Homo sapiens: one gene and its partners. The protein of the gene in region 2 interacts with the protein of the main gene of each other region in a pairwise test. Each region holds a gene or a part of one and is shown on either strand. Other genes may lie near its edges.

What was found.
Region 1: the proteins of FAM222B (region 2) and BAG4 interact in binary tests that used the Homo sapiens proteins (3 or more experiments, as listed by UniProt).
Region 3: the proteins of FAM222B (region 2) and CDCA4 interact in binary tests that used the Homo sapiens proteins (3 or more experiments, as listed by UniProt).

What each region holds. Positions count from the first base shown.
Region 1 is NC_000008.11:38,200,845-38,207,869, forward strand, and holds part of BAG4 (BAG family molecular chaperone regulator 4), read left to right. Parts: intron 1-6,667; coding exon 6,668-6,922; intron 6,923-7,025. UniProt on the Homo sapiens protein: Inhibits the chaperone activity of HSP70/HSC70 by promoting substrate release. Prevents constitutive TNFRSF1A signaling. Negative regulator of PRKN translocation to damaged mitochondria.
Region 2 is NC_000017.11:28,839,785-28,847,148, reverse strand, and holds the start of FAM222B (protein FAM222B), read left to right. Parts: upstream 1-4,358; 5' UTR 4,359-4,467; intron 4,468-7,364.
Region 3 is NC_000014.9:105,011,069-105,018,093, reverse strand, and holds part of CDCA4 (cell division cycle-associated protein 4), read left to right. Parts: intron 1-6,158; 5' UTR 6,159-6,164; coding exon 6,165-6,890; 3' UTR 6,891-7,025. UniProt on the Homo sapiens protein: May participate in the regulation of cell proliferation through the E2F/RB pathway. May be involved in molecular regulation of hematopoietic stem cells and progenitor cell lineage commitment and differentiation.

The DNA.
Region 1 (7,025 bases), on a different chromosome or scaffold from region 2:
GCCTTGGCCTCCCAAAGTGCTGGGATTACAGGCATGAGCCACCATGCCTGGCCAGGCAGCTGAGATTTTTATTGAGATTGCATCATAGATCAGTTTGGAGAGTAGCATGTGTACTTTTATAGTTAATGTAAGAGGGAGACAAAACTCATAGTCATGAATTATAAGTTAATGTTAATTTTTCTGATTTCACTGATCTTACTGATAAAGATTGCTTTTTCTCATAACATTTTCCCCCTTAGGTAAAAGTATTTATTACATTCATATGTAGGTTCAAAAAAGATTAACTTATAATTTAGTAGTAACTTTTTAAAAGCAACAGTAATAATGTGCAAATGTTTTTAGATACAACATACAAGTTGTTGGATTTAAAATAACCCAAAGGTGTCTAGACATACACCTTTTTGAGGTGAGCACATGTGTATTTTCTGGCGAAACATCACATGGGGATTATACATTTATCATCATCTTTTTTTTGTTTGTTTCTTGAGATAGATAGTCTTGCTCTACCACCCAGTTCATTGTAGTGGCATAATCATAGATCACTGTAACCTTGAACTCCTGGACTTAAGTGATCCTCCTGTCTCAGTGTCCTAGGTACAGGTGCGTGCAACCACACCTGGTTTAATTTTTAAATATTTTGCAGAGATGGGGTCTCATTATGTTGCCTAGGCTGGTCTTGAACTCCTGGGCTCAGGTGATCCTTCTACCTCAGCATCCCAAAGTGTTGGGATTACAGGCGTGAGCCATTGCACTTGGTCTAGCTTCTATCCAAGATAGACTCCTATAGTGGTATATAGATATGACTGGTTTCCTTTTTAAAAAATTAAGCAGTATCATGTCTTTACCTTCCGGCTACCTCCTTGGGTTAGCCTTGCCACATGGTCATTCTTCTGTTTGGTTGGTTTTATAAATCTTAAAAATTCTCATTCAAAAGTAGCTATAATAAGCCAAGAATATGTAATTTCATGCATTTATTCTGAGTGTGGAATTTATATATATATATATATATATATATATATATATATATATATATATATTTTTTTTTTTTTTTTTTTTTTTTTTTTTAAGAAGCTGTTAATGTTGCTAAGGTGTCTGACCAATCTTCCAAGTTGATTAGCCTGCCATGTGCCAGGTGCAGTTTATGTGCTATGCAAGTATTAGGGCAGCATTTGAACTAAAGCCTTCCTCATTTTTCAGAACTTCATTCTTTAACTAATAGTGTGGACTCTTGAGAGGAGCATGGAGGGCGATTCATGGAGTAGGGTGTGAACAGCACGGAAGTTCACAATCTCAGGCTGTATCTCTGGAAGCAGAAGATATTGTCTCACCCAACTGTTAATAAAGTTCGTGAGGTTTTCTCAGTATTATTCAAACTCGGTTGAGTTGCTTCTGCTTTGTTCTTAAGTCCTTCTTTTTCCTTTTCTTTTCTTTCTTTTTTTGAGACCAGGTCTCCCTCTGTCACCCAGGCTGGAGTACAGTGGTATGATATTGGCTTACTGCAACCTCCACCTCCTGGGCTCAAGCGATCCTCCCACTGCAGCCTCCTGAGTAGCTGGGACTACAGGCACATGCCACCATTCCCAGCTAATTTTTGTATTTTTTGTAGAGAGGGGGTTGCCCCCGCTTATCTTAAACTCTTTGAGTTTAAGCAGTCCACCTGCCTTGGCCTTCCAAAGTGCTAGGATTACAGGCATGAGCCACTGTGCTCGGCCCCCTTTTTTTTTTTTTTTCTGTTTCTCAGGCTGGAGTGCAATGGCATGATCACAGCTCACTGCAGCCTCAATCTCCTCTGGCTCAGGTGATCCTCCCACCTTAACTGCTTGAGTGGCTGGGACCTTAGGCATACGCCACTACACCTGGCTAATTTTTGTATTTTTTGTAGAGATGGGGTCTCACTTTGTTGCCCAGGCTGGTCTGGAACTCCTGACCTCAAGCGATCCACCTGCCTTGGTCTCCCAAAGTGCTAGAATTACAAGAATGAGCTACCACGCCTGGCCAAGTCCTTCATTTTTATGACATACTTTAATATGTAACAGAAATCTGTTCTGAAGTCCTAGAAGCATTTTCTTCCTTTTTGGATTCCGTCTTATGACTCTAAATGGTGCAAGGAACTCCTGTATTTTCTTTGCTGTGCTCCAAGTGTCAACCTAAAATAACAACAGAGAGAAGGACTCTTCAAAGAAATGAATCTGTTTGGAAATAAACAGAGAATTACAATTTCAGATGCGCATACCATAGATAATCATCCCCTACATATCTGGAGAAGTTGTAGTAAGGGGAAACTTTTAAAGGGAAAGAGGAGAAGTCCATATAAGCTGTTTTGAGACAAACATCATTGGTCACAGGGGCCTGTTGTAGGAGCTGATGTTACTGGAAACTCATTGCTAAGCGAGTGTTCTTATGAAGATGGCTTATGTGAAACTGCAGTCTTGAGGAATTTTTTTTTTTTCTTTTTTTGGACAGAGTTTCACTCTGTCGCCCAGGCTGGAGTGCCATGGCACGATCTTGGCTCACTGCAAGCTCCGCCTCCCGAGTTCACGCCATTCTCCTGCCTCAGCCTCCTGAGTAGCTGGGACTACAGTCGCCTGCCACCACGCCCAGCTAATTTTTTTGTATTTTTAGTAGAGACAGGGTTTCACCGTGTTAGCCAGGATGGTCTCGATCTCCTGACCTCGTGATCCGCCCACCTTGGCCTCCCAAAGTGCTCAGATTACAGGTGTGAGCCACCGTGCCTGGTTGAGGAATTTTTTGTGATAAGTCCTGTTACAGACATATGTAGGACAAGCAAGATGAGTAGGGCCTACAGGGATTTTTTGTGAGTTTTTAGAAAGCCCTGTGATATAGGCTGGGTGCAGTGGCTCATACCTGTAGTCCAAGCTACTTGGGAGGCTGAGGCAGGAGGATAACTTGAGCCTGGGAGATCTAGGCTGCAGTGAGCTATGATGGTGCCACTGTACTCTAGCCTGGGTGACAGAGTGAGACCCTGTCTCAAAAAAAAAAAAAAAAAAAGTCCTTGTGATAATACTTATCGCAGACATGTGTGCATGAGATCCCCTCCTTCGTGACCTCCCCCTCCATTTTGGGTCTGATGTAAGTGACTCCATCTTGGCATTGGCAACTTTCACACAAGCTGCTTTTCAGACAAAGACTTAAAAACTTTGCCACGTTTCTGAAATAGGATCTTTAGCTCATCCTTAACAAACATCTTTAGCAACTGCAAGGCTGTTATATAATCTGATTCTGTGTTCTTTTGTAAACATGCATGTGACAGCTTTGTGATCTGTCAGGACAGTGGTTATTTGGGAAAAGAAGCAATGAACTCATGAAGGCATCTCAAAACCAGGAAGTAATTCCAGGAATCAAGGAAATTTTCAAGCATCAAAAGTAATGGCTGGCCAGATGTGGTGGCTCACACCTGTAATCCCAGCACTTTGGGAAGCTGAGGCGAGTGGATTGCTTGAGCCCAGGAGTTCGAGATCAGCCTGGGCAACATGGCCAAACCCTGTCTCTACAAAAAATACAAAAATTAGCCAGGCATGGTGGTGCATGCCTGTGGTCCCAGTTACTTAGGATGCTAAGGTGGGAGGATTGCTTGAGCCCGGAGTTTGAGGCTGCAGTGAGCCGTGATTGTGCCACTGCATTCTACCCTGGGTGTCTTGGGGAGAAAAAAAGTAATGGCCAGGCATGGTATAATCCCAGCACTTTGGGAGGCTGAGGTGCCAGGATCACTTCAGCCTAAAAGTTTGAGACTAGCCTGGCAACATAGCGTGACCTCATTTCTATTTAAAGAAAAACAACAACAACGAAAAAAAAAACAAAAACAACGCCTGTGAGAAGGGAAAAAGAAAAAAAATAAACAACAAAAGCCACATAAAAGCAATGAGAATCACACACTAAAGTAACATGAACCCATCTATTGGTTTCAATGGGTTATCAGTACATGGCCGTCGTGTATTTATTCTTGGAGTATTTCCTTGGAGTATTTTGAAGCAATTTCAGATATCATTTTATCACTTATAAATACCTAAGTATGTTTCTTTAAAATATAAGGAAGTTTTAAAAACATAACCACAATGTTTTTAAACATTTTTAATTAAAAATTAAAACTTAAAAGGAAAAAAACAACCTTAAAAATAATTATTTCATATCATTAAATATCTGGTCAGTTCTAACAGTAAAATATTTATTTAGTTAGTTAGCTAGTTGAAGACAGGGTCTTACTGTCACCCAGGCTAGAGAACAGTGGCTTGATTATAGCTCACTGTAACATTGAACTCCTAGGCTCAAACGATCCTCCTGCCTCAGCCTCCTGTGTAGCTAAGGACTATAGCTGTGCCATACCACGCCCAGCTAATTAATTTTTTTTTTTTTTTTTTTTTTTTTTTTTGTAGAGATGAGGTCTTGCTGTTTGCACAGGCTGTTCTCAGACTCCTGGGCTCAAGCAATCCTCCCACCTTGGCTTCCCAAAACGCTGGGATTTTTACAGGCATGAGTCTGTGCGCCTAGCCATAACAATAAAATTTGAAGACTGAATACAATTTTTTCAATGAATAGTCTTTAATCTACTTAAAGATTCCATTGTTATAGGACATTTAGGTAGTTTACAATTTTGTGTGATTGTAAATAATGCTGCGATGAAGAACTTCATGTCTATAACTTTTTCTCTAGTTGAATCATTTCCTTAGGATTTCTAGAAGTTGAATAACAGTACAAAAAGTCACATAATGTTTTATTAAGTCTCCAATTGTGTGTGTGATGTATTACGGAGTTCTTTGTTTATGCCCGAAGACCTTAACAGCCTCTTAGTAGTTTTAACATAGTGGTGGTTCATGGTCTTCTGCTCAGGGAATGCATTGCTGACTGTTTATTATACCTCATCCTGCATGGAATTCTTTGGTCATGGGTATCCTCATACCTAAAGTGGGAAAGATTATATAGTCTTCGAGATAGAGATGAGTATAGGAAAACTGGATTCTGTGTTTTCACTGTTTTTAAAGGGTAAAGTAGAAATTAATAGAACACGTTGAGGTGATCATTTAAATTTAGCATTAAGCTTGAATCTTTTTTTAAAAATTACTTTTTTTTTTTTTTTTAAATAGATGGGGTTTGACTATATTCCTGAGGCTGGTCTGTAACTCCTGAGCTCAAGTGATCCTCCCTCCTAGGCTGGATGCAGTAGCTCATGCCTGTAATCCCAGCACTTTGGGAGGCTGAGGCGGGTGGATATGAGGTCAGGAGTTCGAGACCAGCCTGGCCAAGATGGTGAAATCCCATCTCTACTAAAAGTACAAAAATTATAGCATGCCTGTAATCCCAGCTACTTGGGAGGCTGAGGCAGGAGAATCGCTTGAATCTGGGGGGTGGAGGTTGCAGTGAGCCAAGATCTTGCTACTGCACTCCAGCCTGGGTGACAGAGCAAGACTCCATCTTAAAAAAAAAAAAAAAAGTGATCCTCCCTTCTCAGCCTCCCAAAGTGCTGGGATTACAGGCATGAGCCTGTGCGCCTGCCTAGCTTGAATCTTGTTTGGATTATTAAACTGAGGATTCTGGGTGTGGATAAGAGTCTGAATAGGTTATTTAAAACTACAGTGAGCAATATATGAGGAGTTTGTTGTTGGTATCATTTGGGATGCAGAGTGATGGTGTAATACAAAGAACTGGACTTCAGAGTCAGATCTGGGTTCATGTCATGACCCAGCCATGATAATACTAACAACAGTCATAATACAAATAATTACCATTTATTGAGCATACTATATGCCAGACACTATGCTAAACCTTTTATATATGTCATCTTATTTAATTTTGACAGTAATCCTCAAAGATACGTTTATGATCTTCATTTTCCTGATGGAGAAACTGAAGTTAGGGAAGGTTAAATACAAAGCCTATGGCAGAGCTAGGTCTGTCTCTATAGTCTTTTTAAATAATTTTTTTGTTTTCTTATACTTTCTGAGACAGAGTCTCACTCTGTTGCCCAGGCTGGAGTGCAGTGGTACAACCATGACTCACTGCAGCCTTGACCTCCTGGGCTCAAGCAATCCTCTCACCTCAGCCTCCTGAGTAGCTTGGACTACAGATGTGTGCCATGAGGCCTAGATAATTTTTTTTTTTTTTTTTTTTTTGAGATGAAGTCTTACTCTTGTCCCCCAGGCTGGAGTGCGATGGCACGATCTTGGCTCACTGCAACCTCCGCCTCCTGGGTTCAAGCGATTCTCCTGCGTCAGCCCCCCGAGTAGCTGGGATTACAGGCGCCTGCCACCATGCCCGGTTAATTTTTGTATTTTTAGTAGAGATGGGGTTTCACCATTTTGGCCAGGCTGGTCTAGAACTCCTGACCTCAGGTGACCCACCCGCCTCGGCCTCCCAAAGTGCTAGGATTACAGGCTTGAGCCACTGTGCCTGGCAATGCCTGGCTAATTATTTTATTTTATTTTTGTAGAAACAGGGTCTCACTATGTTGTCCAGGCTGGTCTCAAACTCCTGACCTCAAATGATTCTCCCACCTTGGGCTCCCAAAGTGCTGGGATTACAGGCATGAGCCACTGTGCCTGGCCTGCATTAGTGATTAACATCTTCTCAAAGTTTTCAAGTTTAGGCATTAAGTCAGGGCATTTCAGCTCTTCTACTAATTCATCTTTTTTTCACTCAACTTGGTTTTTTTCAGAGTTTGAATTCTTATACAAATGGAGCGTATGGTCCAACATACCCCCCAGGCCCTGGGGCAAATACTGCCTCATACTCAGGGGCTTATTATGCACCTGGTTATACTCAGACCAGTTACTCCACAGAAGTTCCAAGTACTTACCGTTCATCTGGCAACAGCCCAACTCCAGTCTCTCGTTGGATCTATCCCCAGCAGGACTGTCAGACTGAAGCACCCCCTCTTAGGGGGCAGGTTCCAGGATATCCGCCTTCACAGGTGAGTTGTTTTCTATTGGGAAAAAAATGAATTCAAAGTCTCTGCCTCTTGTAAACAGTGGAAGAGCATCTGTTCATACTAGTGCTGATTTAATAAGACACTT
Region 2 (7,364 bases):
GGGGTTCAAGCGATTTTCCTGCCTCAGCCTCCCGAGTAGCTGGGATCACAGGCATGTTCCACCATGCCCGGCTAATTTGGTATTTTTAGTAGAGATGGGGTTTCTCCATGTTGGTCAGGCTGGTCTCGAACTCCTGACCTTAGGTGATCTACCCACCTAGGCCTCCCAAAGTGCTGGGATTACAGGCGTCAGCCACCACGCCCAGCGCTAATTTTTAAATCTTTTGCAGAGACAGAGTCTCACTACGTTGCCCAGGCTGGTCACGAACTCCTGGCCTCAAATGGTCCTCTGCCTTGGCCTCCCCAAGTGCTGAGTTTACAGGCATGAGACACCACGTTTGGCCTTTCCCCAGATATTTTTGTTCTTCGGATGGTTGAATTCCTAGATGCTGAACCCTTGGATATTGAGGACCAATATTGAGCAGGAGAGGGCTGTGGGGTTAATAGAGGATTTTCTTTTCTTTTTTAAGAGGAAAATTTTATTCTTACTGAGATGGAGTCTGGCTCCCCTAGGCTGGAGTGCAATGGTTGAATCTCACTGCAACCTCCGCCTCCCAGACCCAAGCAATCCTCGCTCTTCAGCCTCCCAAGTAGCTGGGACTACAGATGCGGGCCACCACACCCGGCTAATTTTTTGGTAATTTTTTTGTACAGACGGGTTTTCACCATGTGGCCCAGCTTGGTCTCAAACTCCGCCTACTCCACCTCCCAAAGTGATGACATTACAGGCGTGAGTCACCGTACCTGGCCTGAACATTTTTTTTTTAATTAAAAAAATTTTTTTGAGACACAGTCTCACTCGGTTCCTTAGGCTGCGGTGTAGTGTAGTCTAGGCTCACTGCAACCTCTGCCTCCTGGGTTCAAGTGATTCTCCCACCTCAGCCTCCCAAGTAGGTGGGACCACAGGTGTGCACCACCACATCCAGCTAATTTTTTTTTTTTTTTTTGAGATGGAGTCTTGCTCTGTCGCCCAGGCTGGAGTGCAGTGGCATGGTCTCGGCTCACTGCAACCTCCACCTCCTGGGTTCACGCCGTTCTCCTGCCTCAGCCTCCTGTGTACCTGGGACTACAGGCGCCCGCCACCATGCCCAGCTAATTTTTTGTATTTTTAGTAGAGACGGGGTTTCACCGTGTTAGCCAGGATGGTCTCGATCTCCTGACCTCGTGATCCACCCGCCTTGGCCTCCCAAAGTGCTGAGATTACAGGCGTGAGCCACCAGGCCCAACCCTTATTTATTTATTTATTTTTCTTTTTGAGATGGAGCCTTGCTCTGTCACCCAGGCTGGATTGCAGTGGCGCAATCTTGGCTCACTACAACCTCCACCTCCCGGGTTCAATTGATTGTCCCACCTCAGCCCCCCAAGTAGCTGGGACTACAGGCACCCGCCACCATGCCCGGCTAATTTTTTGTATTTTTAGTAGAGATGGGGTTTCACCGTGTTAGCCAGAATGGTCTCGATCTCCTGACCTTATGATCTGCCCACCTCGGCTTCCCAAAGTGCTGGGATTACAGGTGTGACCCACTGTGCCTGGCCTATTTATTTATTTTTTCTTTTTTTCCTTTTTTTTTTGAGACAGAGTCTCGCTCTGTCGCCAAGGCTGGAGTGCAGTGGCGCGATCTCGGCTCACTGCAAGCTCCGCTTCCCAGTTCATGCCATTCTCCTGCCTCGGCCTCCCGTGTAGCTGGGACTACAGGCGCCCACCACCACGCCCAGCCAATTTTTTTGTATTTTTGTATTTTTTTTTTTTGAGATGGAGTCTCGCTCTGTCCCCAGGCTGGAGTGCAGTGGCACCGTCTTGGCTCACTGCAAGCTCTGCCTCCGGGCTTCACGCCATTCTCCCGCCTCAGCCTCCCAAGTAGCTGGGACTGCAGGGGCCCGCCACCATGCCCGGCTAATTTTTTATATTTTTAGTAGAGATGAGGTTTCACCGTGTTAGCCAGGATGGTCTCGATTTCCTGACCTCGTGATCCGCCCACCTCGACCTCCCAAAGTGCTGGGATTACAGGCCTGAGCCACCGCGCCCGGCCCTATTTATTTTTTTAATTGAGATGGAGTCTCACTCTGTTATCCAGGCTGGAGTGCAGTGGTGCGATCTCGGCTCATTGTAACCTCCGTTCCTGGGTTCAAGCGATTTTCCTGCCTCAGCCTCCTGAGTAGCTGGGACTACAGGTGCATGCCACCATGCCCAGATAATTTTTGTATTTTTTCAGTAGAGACAGGGTTTCACCGTGTTGGCCAGGCTGGTCTCGAATTCCTGGCTTCAAGTGATCCGCCCGCCTTAACCTCCCAAAGTGCTGGGTTTACAGGCATGAGCTATCTTGCCTGGCCACTATTTTTTAGATTTTTTGTAGAGATGAGTCTCCCTATGTTGCCCAGGCTGGTCTCTAACTCCTGGGCTCAAGCAATCCTCCCAACCTGGCCTCCCAAAATGTTGGGATTACAAGCATAAGTCACTATGCCCAGCTTTATTTTTAATTTTTTTTTCTTTTGAGACGGAGTCTCGCTCTGTCGCCCAGGCTGGAATGCAGTGGCTTGATCTCGGCTCACTGCAAGCTCCGCCTCCCGGGTTCACGCCATTCTCTTGCCTCAGCCTCCTGAGTAGCTGGGACTACAGGCGCCCGCCACCACGCCCGGCTAATTTTTTGTATTTTTAGTGAGACGGGGTTTCACCGTGTTAGCCAGGATGGTCTCGATCTCCTGACCTCATGATCCGCCCGCCTCGGCCTCCCAAAGTGCTGGGATTACAGGCGTGAGCCACTGCACCTGGCCTATTTAAATTTTTTTAACATTCCTCATTGAGCACTCAACTTGTCTTTTTTTCTTCTCTTTTTCCCCCTTACGTTGTATCTTGGGCCTTATGTGTCCAAACTCTGAAGAGAGGAGACCAGCGCTGGAGTTGAGAGAGAAAAAAGAGCCATGGTGATGAGGAGAGAGTTTAGTCCTGTACCTCCTCTTGCCTGCTGCTTTCAAGTCTGTTTTGTTGAATTCTCAGGACTCGATTGAGCTTAGTCTCTTGTCAGGCTATGCCAAAGCAGCACAGTAGTCTAGGGACTGACAGTTGGGCCTCACTGGACTTTAGTGGTTTTCTTTTACCAGTTTGAAAAAGGGCCAGGCTCACAGTGAGAGCTGGAAAGCAGGGGACTATTTGCCTGCGAATTCCTCAATAGCATACACGCGATGCCTAGAACATTTCTGTCCAATAAACAGCATGTGCTTGATAAACATACTGAACTTAGCGGTGTCCCCAGTGCATTCTAGGCGAGGTCACCTCCTTGACAAGGTCCCCAGGACTTCATTGCACCTCCTAGCTAGTAGCGTATTCTAGGATGGCAAAGCTGCCTTTACATAATTACCCCCGATACATTCTAGACACGATCATCTTGAAAGAGACCCAAATTTTACCAGGCATGGTGACTCAGGCCTGTAATCCCAGCACTTTGGGAGGCCGGGGCGGGCGAATCATCTGAGGTCAGGAGTTCGAGACCAGCCTGGCCAACATGGTGAAACCCCGTCTCTACTAAAAATACAAAAGTTAGCCAGGCGTGGTGGTGCAAGCCTGTAATCCCAGCTAGTCAGGAGGCTGAGGCAGGAGAATCGTTTGAACCCGGGAGGCGGAGGTTGCAGTGAGCTGAGATCGCGCCACTGCACTCCAGCCTGGGCAACAAGAGCAAAACTCCGTCTCAAAAAAAAAAAAAAAAAAAAAAGACCCAGGCTGGGCGCGGTGGCTCATGCTTGTAATCCCAGCGCTTTAGAAGGCTGAGGTGGGTGGATCACCTGAGGTCGGGAGTTCGAGACCAGCCTGACCAACATGATAAAACCCCGTCTCTACTAAAAATACAAAATTAGCTGGGCGTGGTGGTGCATGCCTGTAATCCCAGCTACTCGGGAGGCTGAGGCAGGAGAATCGCTTGAACCCGGGAGGCGGAGGTTGTTTGAGCCGAGATCACGCCATTGCACTCCAACCTGGACAACAAGAGCGAAACTTCGACTCAGAAAAAAAAAAAAAAAGACCCAAATTTATCATCAGTGGTCACCTCAGAGCACCTGAATTCAGGCCTTTAAGTGCAAGTAGGATGCAGAATTCTGGAAGAGCCAGTAAGTCTGTGGCTCCTTGGGGAAGCGCGATCCAAGGGTTTAGTAACCTAGGCACGGTACTCCAGAGGCGTACCCTGAGGCAGCCGCCAAATTCTCTAAGCCTCAGAATTCTTCAAGGCCAGCTCCCATGTCCACTAGAGACCCAGGGGTCCAGACCATCAGGCACTGAGGAAGACGCCCCCGGCAGGGGCTGCGCAGGCGCGTGCGGCCCGAAAGGGCCCAGGCGCTACACGCTGCGCAGGCGCAGGAGCGGCTCCGGGTAGTCCCCACAGCTGCGCCGGTGACTGAGGGGCCGGGCAGTGGAGAAGTGGTGGCGGCGGGCGGCGGGCGGCAAAGGAGCAGCCATGAGGGCCGGGCCCAGTCACCGACCGTGAGTAGTGGTGGAGGGGGAGTGGACAACGCGTGGGAAGAGGGTAACTTAGCGGAAGGATACATGACTTTGTGGGGTGGGCTCTGACTGTGGGAGACGGAAGGGCGTGGGGGAGGTACAGTTTGAGGTGATGATGGGAGAATTTGGGGCACGGGTGGCCCGGTCGCCGGCCGCAGAGCTGGACAGCTTGGTGGAGGGGGACGGGGTTGCGTGCTGTGGAGTGAAGCAGCCCATTTGTATCATCCCTTCCTCCAGGAGCTTTTGGTCGCCTCTCCTTTCCGCTTCTTTCAGAGAATGATTGCGGGGGGAGGGTGGTGGAGGATGAAAGCTCTGCTGGAGCTTAAGAAGCCACCTCTGAACCAGGCAGGGGAAGGGTCGGTCTCCCGGAGTAATAGGCTGCTCTGGGTAGAGGATGGGAGTCGGGAACCCTCTTTTGAAAGCCGGGAGGGGTCTAGGGAAAAGAGCTAGGGGCTTAGAGTCAGGCAGGTTCGAAAGGAAGTCCACCATTGATAAAGCTGTTAGGTAACCTTGGGCAGGTCCCACTTAACCTTTCTGAACACCAGGAAGATGTCATGCTTCAAACGGGCTATTGCAAGCATCACCTATGTAATTGAGATTGTTTATGCAAATTGTGAATTGTAAGTACTATGTTGATGTTAATGTATCACCAACAATGTTAGTGGAATTTAGACCTTACCGTTGTTAATGGAATGACTGATTTCTCTGTTAAGATAAGAAGCGTATTGTTTGTAAAACCTCAGTAGACACATATGTGCTTTCTTTATGGGCACAGCAGACCATGTGCAGAACTACCAGTTCTGTAATGTGATAAATTAGCCATCAGACTTCTGTAGGAAAAATACCGTACTCCGGCGTTTTTACAAACGGTTTGCAGCTCCTCACCCGAAAGGATGGAGGGCCAATCTATTAAAATATTTTCTGAACATAGCTAACTCATGTTGCCTTATAACACAGTTGGCACTAATGTGCTTTAACGAGTTGAGAAAAGGCCGGGTGCAGTGGCTCATGTCTGTAATCCCAGCACTTTGGGAGGCCGAGGCGGGCGGATCACGAGGTCAGAAGTTGGAGACCAGCCTAGCCAACGTAGTGAAATCCCGTCTCTACTAAAAATACAAAAAATCAGCCGGGTGTGGTGGCGGGCGCCTGTAATCCCAGCTGCTTGGGAAGCTGAGGCAGGGGAATCACTCGAACCCGGGAGGCAGAGGTTGCGGTGAGCCGAGATAGTGCTATTGCACTCCAGTTCGGGTGACAGTGCGAGACTCCGTCTGGAAAAAAGAGTTAAGAAAACTAGTTTGAGACAAGCTGGGAGGGCTGCCCAGTGAGGGATGTGAAAATATAATTTGTTTATTATATTTTATTTTATTTTTGAGACGGAGTCTCGCTCTGTCGCCAGGCAGGAGTGCAGTGGCATCATCTCGGCTCACAGCAACCTCCGCCTCCCGGGTTCAAGCGATTCTCCTGTCTCAGCCTCCTGAGTAGCTGGGATTACAAATGCCCACCACCACGCCTGGCTAATTTTTGTAGTTTTAGTAGAGATGGGGTTTCACCATGTTGGCCAGGCTGGTCTTGAACTCCTCACGTCAGGTGATCCACCCACCTCGGCCTCTCAAAGTGCCGGGATTACAGGCGTGAGCCACCGTGCCTGGCTATTTTGTTATCTTTATTTTTATTTTATTTTATTATAATTTTTTTTGAGGTGGGTGAAGGAGTCTTGCTCTGTCACCCAGGCTGGAGTGCAGTGGTGCGAACTTGGTTCACTGCAACCTCCGCCTCCTGGGTTCAAGCAATTCTCCTGCCTCAGCCTCCCTAGTACCTGGGATTATAGGCACGTGCCACCATACCCGGCTAATTTTTGTATTTTTTTTAGTACACTCGGGGTTTCTCCATTGCTGGACAGGCTGGTCTCAAACTTCTGACCTCAGGTGATCCGCCCGCCCCAGCCTCCCAAAGTGCTGGGATTACAGGCGTGAACCACCGTGCTTGGCCCATTTTATTATTTTTAAATTATAAAAAGTTCTCCTTTGCAAAGGAGTCTCTGGCTGCTCCGGGGACCTGTCGCTGTTTTGGAGGTCAGATATGCATAAGGCAGCCCTCTAGCTCTGCTTTTTGTTACCCTGCTTGTCAGTGGGATCTCTCAGGTGGAATATCTCAGAAGAGGAGCCCAAGAGGTGTCTTGGTTTTCCTGAGAGGCTGAAGAAACACTCCTGAGACGTGTTTTTTAATGTAGACAAAGCAGAGGACAAACTATGTGTTTATGGAAAGAGAAAATGGGTTCTTTTTATTTTATTTTGTTTTGACACAGAGTCTTGTTCTGTCGCCCAGGCTGGAGTGCAGTAGCGCAATCTCGGCTCATTGCAACCTCCACCTCCCGGGTTCAAGCAGTTCTCCTGCCTCAGCCTCCAAGTAGTTGCGATTACAGGCACCCACCACCATGCCCGGCTAGTTTTTGTATTTTTAGTAGAGATGGGGTTTCGCCATTTTGGTCAGGCTGGTTTCGAACCAGGTGATCCGCCTGCCTCGGCCTCCCAAAGTGCTGGGATCACAGGCGTAAGCCACCAAGCGCAGTGAGAAAATGGTTTCTAAAGTAGAGATGCAGACTCCTTTTAAAAGGACATAGACACTTCAGCTTTGCTGACTCTGAGGATTGAGACCTTAAACTGTCAAGGCGTTTTGGCAATTGATGAGTGATTGGTCTTTTACCTGAGTAAAGGTAGGGAGGGGCTATACTAGATTCTTGAAGATTCACAAATAAGGGGAGTGAATTTACAGGAATGGGAAAAATGAACCTGGTTGTTTTTAACTTCTCTGTCTGGTAAAATGTGTTTCACTTTTCTTTCCTGGAAATGCACAGTGATGTATAATTTTAACCTTTTTAC
Region 3 (7,025 bases), on a different chromosome or scaffold from region 2:
CACCCTGATGGTGGCTACCCTTCTGTGTTTTCACAACTTAGATTAGCTTTGCCTGTCCTGAAGGTTCAGATCAATAGAATCCTACGGTACATATTTTTGTGTGTGTCTTGCTGCTTTTATTCAGCATAATGTTTTGAAATTTATCCGTGTTGCATAAATCATTGAGGTATGTTGCTGAGTTGCATTCCTTTGTCAGAATACACCAGATCGTATACATTCAACTTGTTTTAAGTGTTTTTTTTGTGTGTGTGTGTTTTTTTTTTGAGACGGAGTCTCGCTCTGTTGTTCAGGCTGTAGTGCAGTGGTGCAATCTCTGCTCACTGCAACCTCCGCCTTCCAGGTTCAAGCAATTCTCCTGCCTCAGCCTCCCGAGTAGCTGGGACTACAGGCACGTGCCACCACACCTGACTAATCTTTTGTATTTTTAGTAGAGATGGGGTTTCATCGTGTTGGCCAGGATGGTCTCAATCTCCTGACCTGGTGATCCGCCTGCCTCAGCCTCCCAAAGTGCTGGGATTACAGGCATGAGCCACTGTGCCCGGGCTGTTTAAGTCCTAAAAGAATGCTTGTGGCTGGGTGTGATGGCTCACTCCTGTAATCCTAGCACTTTGGGAGGCCGAGGTGGGCAAATCACTTGATGTCAGGAGTTCGAGACCAGCCTGGCCAACATGGCGAAACCCCGGCTCTATTAAAAATACAAAAAACTAGCTGGGCGTGGTGGTGCACGCCTATAATCCCAGCTACTCGGGAAGTTGAGGGAAGATGAGGCAGGAGAATCGCTTGAACCTAGGAGGTGGAGGTTGCAGTGAGCCGAGATTGCACCACTGCACTCCAGCCTGGGCGACAGTGAGACTCCATCTAAAAAAAAAAAGAATGCTTACAACTGAGAGTGATGAAACTAGGCCAAGGACCGCCCCCCACCTCCCCAGGAGCCTCTCTGGAGGCTCACACCTGCTGGTCCTGTCCTTGAATAGACAGAAAAAAGGTTCCCCCTGTTCTCTGAATTTCTTTTCGGTGTGATAGATCTCATTGCCTGTGCATTTAACACTCCTAAATTTTATAAAACGATTATTTCTTTGGCATTTATCCAAGAGAAATGAAAAACCAATGTTCATGCAAAAACATGTTCTAGAATGTCCATAGCAGCTTTATGTGTAATAACTCCAAACTGGAAACAAGGAAAAAGTTCCCTTCAGCTGGGGTGTGGTGACACTCTGCTCCGTCTGTGCCTCCAGATCCTACTCTGTTGGGAACTGTTGACACACAAGAGTTTGCAAGGATCTCAAGAGAATTATGCTGAAGGAGAAAAGCCAACCTCAGAAGGGTGCTTGCTGTGGGATCCCATTTATGCCACATTGTTGGGCTGACCCAGAGCTGAAGGGTGGCATGGCCAGAAAAGGACCTACACAGGGAGGCCAGGGTGTCTGGTCCTGGCAGGAGAGCAGCCGTGGAACAGGGTAGGAACACAGACGTGGAGCTCAGTGGAGGAGGGAAGGAACGCTTAGCTGTGGGGCTTAGAGACTTGGCAAAACAAGAGGAAGCTTTACCAGCAAGTGTGCAGAAATAGTGCGGGAGAAAGTTGGTGGAGCGTTCCACCTTCTTAGGATGCAGTTTAATAATGTTTATCAAGCCTCTTAAAAATGTACCTGCACATCACCCTAGTAAGTAAAGAGCCGAGGCTAAGGAAGCCAAATGCTAGAAATACCAAAACACCTAAAGTTAGAAACTGGTATCATTTGTGATTGGGAAAATTGTCAGTAGTGTGAAACTTCCCTCCCTTGTGCAGAGAGGAAAGTGCTGGGAGAAACGACTGGAAAGGAGGAACCCAGGTGGTGACTGTGTTTTTCTGAGTGGATGGGATCCTGGGAGAAAATTCGTTTTATGGTTTTTGATGCTCTTCCAGATTGTCTATGGTGAGCTGTGGAAATAAGCAACCAGGTGAGAACAGGCAGAGGCTGTTTATCCAGAGCTTCCCCTAGCAAGGGTGCGGCCCTCCTCTCTCGTGATTGGCAGAAACTCATAGGCAGGTGAGGGAACAGGAGAGCTTTACAGTGGAATCCAGGGAAGCTCAGGGATGGCTGATGGAGGCTGCTGACTTGGGGGACTGGGGTGGCCAGTTAGAAGTGGGGCTCCTGGCCTGGCACGGTGGCTGACGCCTGTAGTCCCAGCACTTTGGGAGGCCAAGGTGAGTGGATCACCCGAGGTCAGGAGTTTTGAGACCAGCCTGACCAACATGGTAAGTCTCTACTGAAAATATAAAAATTAGCCAGGCCTGGTGGTACACCCTTGTAATCCCAGCTACTCGGGAGGCTGAGGCAGGAGAATCCCTTGAACCTGGGAGGCGGAGGTTGCGGTGAGCTGAGATTGCGCCACTGCACTCCAGCCTGGGCGACACAACAACAACAACAAAGAAGTGGGGCTCCTGTGAGATGGCCTAGAACATGTTTGGCTTTCTCTGGTTGGTCCTAAATTGGAAGCAGGGACAAAAACTGGAGAGGTTGTCGGTTACTAATCATGTCCTGGCCATTTTGGGCTGCTTGCTATGGAAATGATTGTTTAGCTTCCTGGATTGTTCCTAGAGAAAGCAGCCAGGCTTCCTGCAGGTCTGACTAGGGCAACCTGGCTTCCTGGCCCGTTACTGAAGGTAAAGGGCTGGTTTCCGACTGATGGCGGCAGATAATGGCTGAGAGTTCTGTTTCTGTATGTGGTTCCGCCATTGTTTGTTGGTATATTCCCTCGCTCAGAGCAGATGTTATTAGGGTGATTTCTGACGGTCACGTATTGCTAGTGCTGCCCTTAGGACCGCTGACAGCACCAGGCCAAGCACTGAATTCATCCTCTTAAGATCCCCAGTGGGAGGCTTCTAGTATCCATATCTGGCTTTCAGAAAAGGGCGGGAGGGTCTGTCGTTGGGTTTGGACTCAGGACCTGGCATTTCTAAGGACTCAGAGGAAAGGAAAGTGGGACCCAGAGGGTCCTAGGAGCTTGGGACAGCTTCTTGAACTGGTTCCCAGTGTGGTTGTGGGTCTTCTTGGCCTGTCCCATTGGTATTCTTGTTCCTTCTGTGAGTTGCCCTGATTGCCCTGCTCAGTCGTGCTGACCTCCTGTAGGCCCCACATTATGGGGGTTGTGCTGCTGGGTTTCCAGAGTCAGGGGAGGCAGCCAGGGGTTCTTCTGTCTATAAACTTGGGCTTAATGCATGCTGTTCAAGAGGATTTGGTTTGGGTCCTAAATTAATCCATTGCTATGCAGGCTTGGGATTGAGATAGGTTGAAAGAGAAACTAAAAACCTAAAAGGTATATTGACTTCCCACAGAGGAACCCGTGGGACTTAATCTTTTCCCCAACGCAGGGTGTCCTTTGTAGTTTGACATAGCCTTATGTTAATTCTCGATATACTTAGCAATTTTAAGCCAGTGATTTAAACAATGGATTGGGATGGAAAAGCTCTGAAAAGTTAAATTTGTGGCTGACACAAAGAACTCGAATATTTACCAAAAGTAATAGAAATGTGTAAATGTGTTTTGGTGGTAAACTGTCCTTCATTTAGAATTAGTTGAGAAGCTGGTGTATGCAGGTGTGAGAGGCGGTGCCCAGCCTGAGGGCTGTGCCTGTGGTGACACTGGCATGCTGCTCTGGGGAAATGGGTGCTGTAGGGGAAATAAGCTAGGGTTAGGGAAGTTTTCCTTTAATTTTAATTTTGAAATAATTGTAGAGCCAGGGGAGGTTGCAGAGCAGTGTTCAGGAGGTCCTATGTGCCCTTCCTCTGCTCCCCAGGGCCGGCATCCTTGTAGGATGCACAGCCAGGCCCCAGGTCCGTGTGATGACACGGCTGCCGCAGGCGCATGTGTGCGTGTCCGGCGCTGTGCAGTCAGGGTAGGGCCACCCCCACAGCCCAGGAGCAGAAGGGCCCTCACCCCCAAGATCTCCCTGCGCAGGTTCCTTTCTAGCCCTGCCACCCCTCAGCTCTGGGTCAGCATGACAATGTGGCATAAATGGGATCCCATAGCAAGCACCCTTCTGAGGTTGGCTTTTCTCCCTCAGCCTAATGCCCCTGTGGAAGGATCCGTCCTGTGTATCAACAGTTCATTTCTTTCTATTGCAGAGTAGGATTTGGTGGCATGAATGGAGCAGAGTGTGTGTCACCGTGCCCAGGTGAAGGGTACATTTTCCTTGTTTCAGATTTGGAGCTACTACAAATAAAGCTGCTGTGCACATTCTGGAACATGTTTTTTGCATGAACATTGGCTTTTTCTCTGGGATAAATGCCCAAGAGGTCACTTAGTTTTTTAAAATTTACATGTGTTAAAGGCACGGGGATGAGATCTGTGACACTGAAGGGAAATTCAGAGAACAGGGGGACCCTTTCTTCTGTTAATTCAAGGGTAGGACCAGCAGGTGGGAGCCTCCAGAGGGGCTCCTGGGAAGGGGTATGTTTGGCAGCCAGTTCTCCCGCACTGCAAAACTTCCCATCCTTGGTCTCCAGACCCCGAGCAGAGACAGCATGTGCCTCCCATACGCCAGCTTTCCAAGAGCACCTGGGTATACCCTGGTCACAGGGAGCCATCAGATTGACTAAGAGAAAAAGAAGTTCCAAAGTTTGCATATTCAAAAGATTGTAACCCTATTTATGCATAACTTGAATTATTTGAAATAATATTTCACTACATTACAAGCATGAGAAGAGAGAAACTTAATCATGCGTGAGATGCTTGTCCTGTCAGACTCTGCCGGCCAGTATGGCCCTGAGCCAGCTGTCATCCTCCCAGCTCCCCGCAGGCGGCACTGGCTCAGAATGGCATCTGTCAAAAGCCAGAGCCCACCCTCCTGTCTGCTCTGCCTTTAGTGCCCCAGAGATGTCCCAATTTAGAATCAGTTAAAAAAAAAAAAAAACAGTTTGCACAGACTTGTACTTCTGAGAGTAGACATGGCCAATGTCCATCTAGTGCATCTGTGCTGTGCGTCTTAGTGGAACCTGCCCAGCAAGGCTGAGCCTTAGGTGCCATCCCGGAGTTGCCCAGGTCTGGGGTAAGATCCAGGAATCTGCATCTTCAACCAACAGCGCCAGTGCTGAGGCATACGCCGAGAAACACTGCCTTGGCCAGCTCTGGGCTGCCACAACACACTGGTGAGGAACCCACCCCCCCTGCCCCGGACACACACATACCCTGCCATGTTTTGGTTCCTTTGAAGAGAAAGGAGTTGAGATGAGAGGGGAGGTGGCCCCTGAGGCCATGGTTGTACGGGCTGGTCAGAGCTCTCGAGTGGAGGGCATTGACCTGAGAGATGTCAAGTAGAAAGCAGCCAGGCAGAGCCTGTGCACCTTGGGAGAAATGAACTGGTGGGGCGGGTGGGGGGAGCCAAGGAATGGGTGTGATCCCTAAGGCAGGCAGCATGGGCGGGTGTGGGAGCAAGGGACTGTCCAGGGCCACATAGGCTCGGCCAGGAGACCCTGTGTCCCTTGGAGAATTGTGCACGAAACACAGACCACTCGCTGCATGGGATGAGCATACAGCCCTGCAGTCCTTCCCCTGCGCGTTCCTGGTGGCACAGCTTTCCAGCCCGGCTGTCTGCGACATATAGAGGCTTTTAGTGAAAGCATTGAGGGGGAAGGCACTAACTCTTCTGAACGCAGAAGTGACTTTGTCCGAGGCAGGATCCTGAGGGAAGTCAGAATGGTACGTGTGTGTGCCCGGCCCTGTCCGGCCCCCGCCCTGCGCCCTCTGCAGGCTGGCACGGTTCACATTAATCTCATGTTACCCCAGGGTCTCTTCTTTTGTACACACCACAGTTAGATTTTTGAAACAGATTTTCAGCCAAGCTCTCGAACACTTACATTTCTCTTATATATTTCTCCTATTTTTAGTTCATTTATCTTTTTTGCTATAAAACACTGTCGTGGTACAGTTGAGAGGTTTGTCGTTTCTAACAACGTGACTGTGCCTGGCTTAGGCAGGATGGCAGCTGATCTGGGGGTGGGGGTCTCCCACTGGGCTCCACGTCTCAGCTCTGTTAGGGAGTTACAGCTCTGTCAAGTCCCTGCCAGTTACGGAGTCGCTGCTCCTTGCGTACAGTGAGGGCAGTCAGACGAAATCCAAGGGGCGCTGTCCGCAGAGAGTCTGCCGTGTGCTAAGTGGTGTCTTCCTTGGTTTCTGCAGGACACAATGTTTGCACGAGGACTGAAGAGGAAATGTGTTGGCCACGAGGAAGACGTGGAGGGAGCCCTGGCCGGCTTGAAGACAGTGTCCTCATACAGCCTGCAGCGGCAGTCGCTCCTGGACATGTCTCTGGTGAAGTTGCAGCTTTGCCACATGCTTGTGGAGCCCAACCTGTGCCGCTCAGTCCTCATTGCCAACACGGTCCGGCAGATCCAAGAGGAGATGACGCAGGATGGGACGTGGCGCACAGTGGCACCCCAGGCTGCAGAGCGGGCGCCGCTCGACCGCTTGGTCTCCACGGAGATCCTGTGCCGTGCAGCGTGGGGGCAAGAGGGGGCACATCCTGCTCCTGGCTTGGGGGACGGCCACACACAGGGTCCAGTTTCTGACCTTTGCCCAGTCACCTCAGCACAGGCACCAAGGCACCTGCAGAGCAGCGCCTGGGAGATGGATGGCCCTCGAGAAAACAGAGGAAGCTTTCACAAGTCACTTGATCAGATATTTGAAACGCTGGAGACTAAAAACCCCAGCTGCATGGAAGAGCTGTTCTCAGACGTGGACAGCCCCTACTACGACCTGGACACAGTACTGACAGGCATGATGGGGGGTGCCAGGCCGGGCCCCTGCGAAGGGCTCGAGGGCTTGGCTCCGGCCACCCCAGGCCCTAGCTCCAGCTGCAAGTCCGACCTGGGCGAGCTGGACCACGTGGTGGAGATCCTGGTGGAGACCTGAGCAGGAGCCCTGAGTGCTCACAGCCGCCTCTGACGCATTGACACGTGAGCACTGGCTCCCACGGAGGGTGCGCCTGCCGCCAGCGGCCCAGCCTTGCTGCCCTGTCTGCTGATTCTGAGAAATCCCAGAACAGCC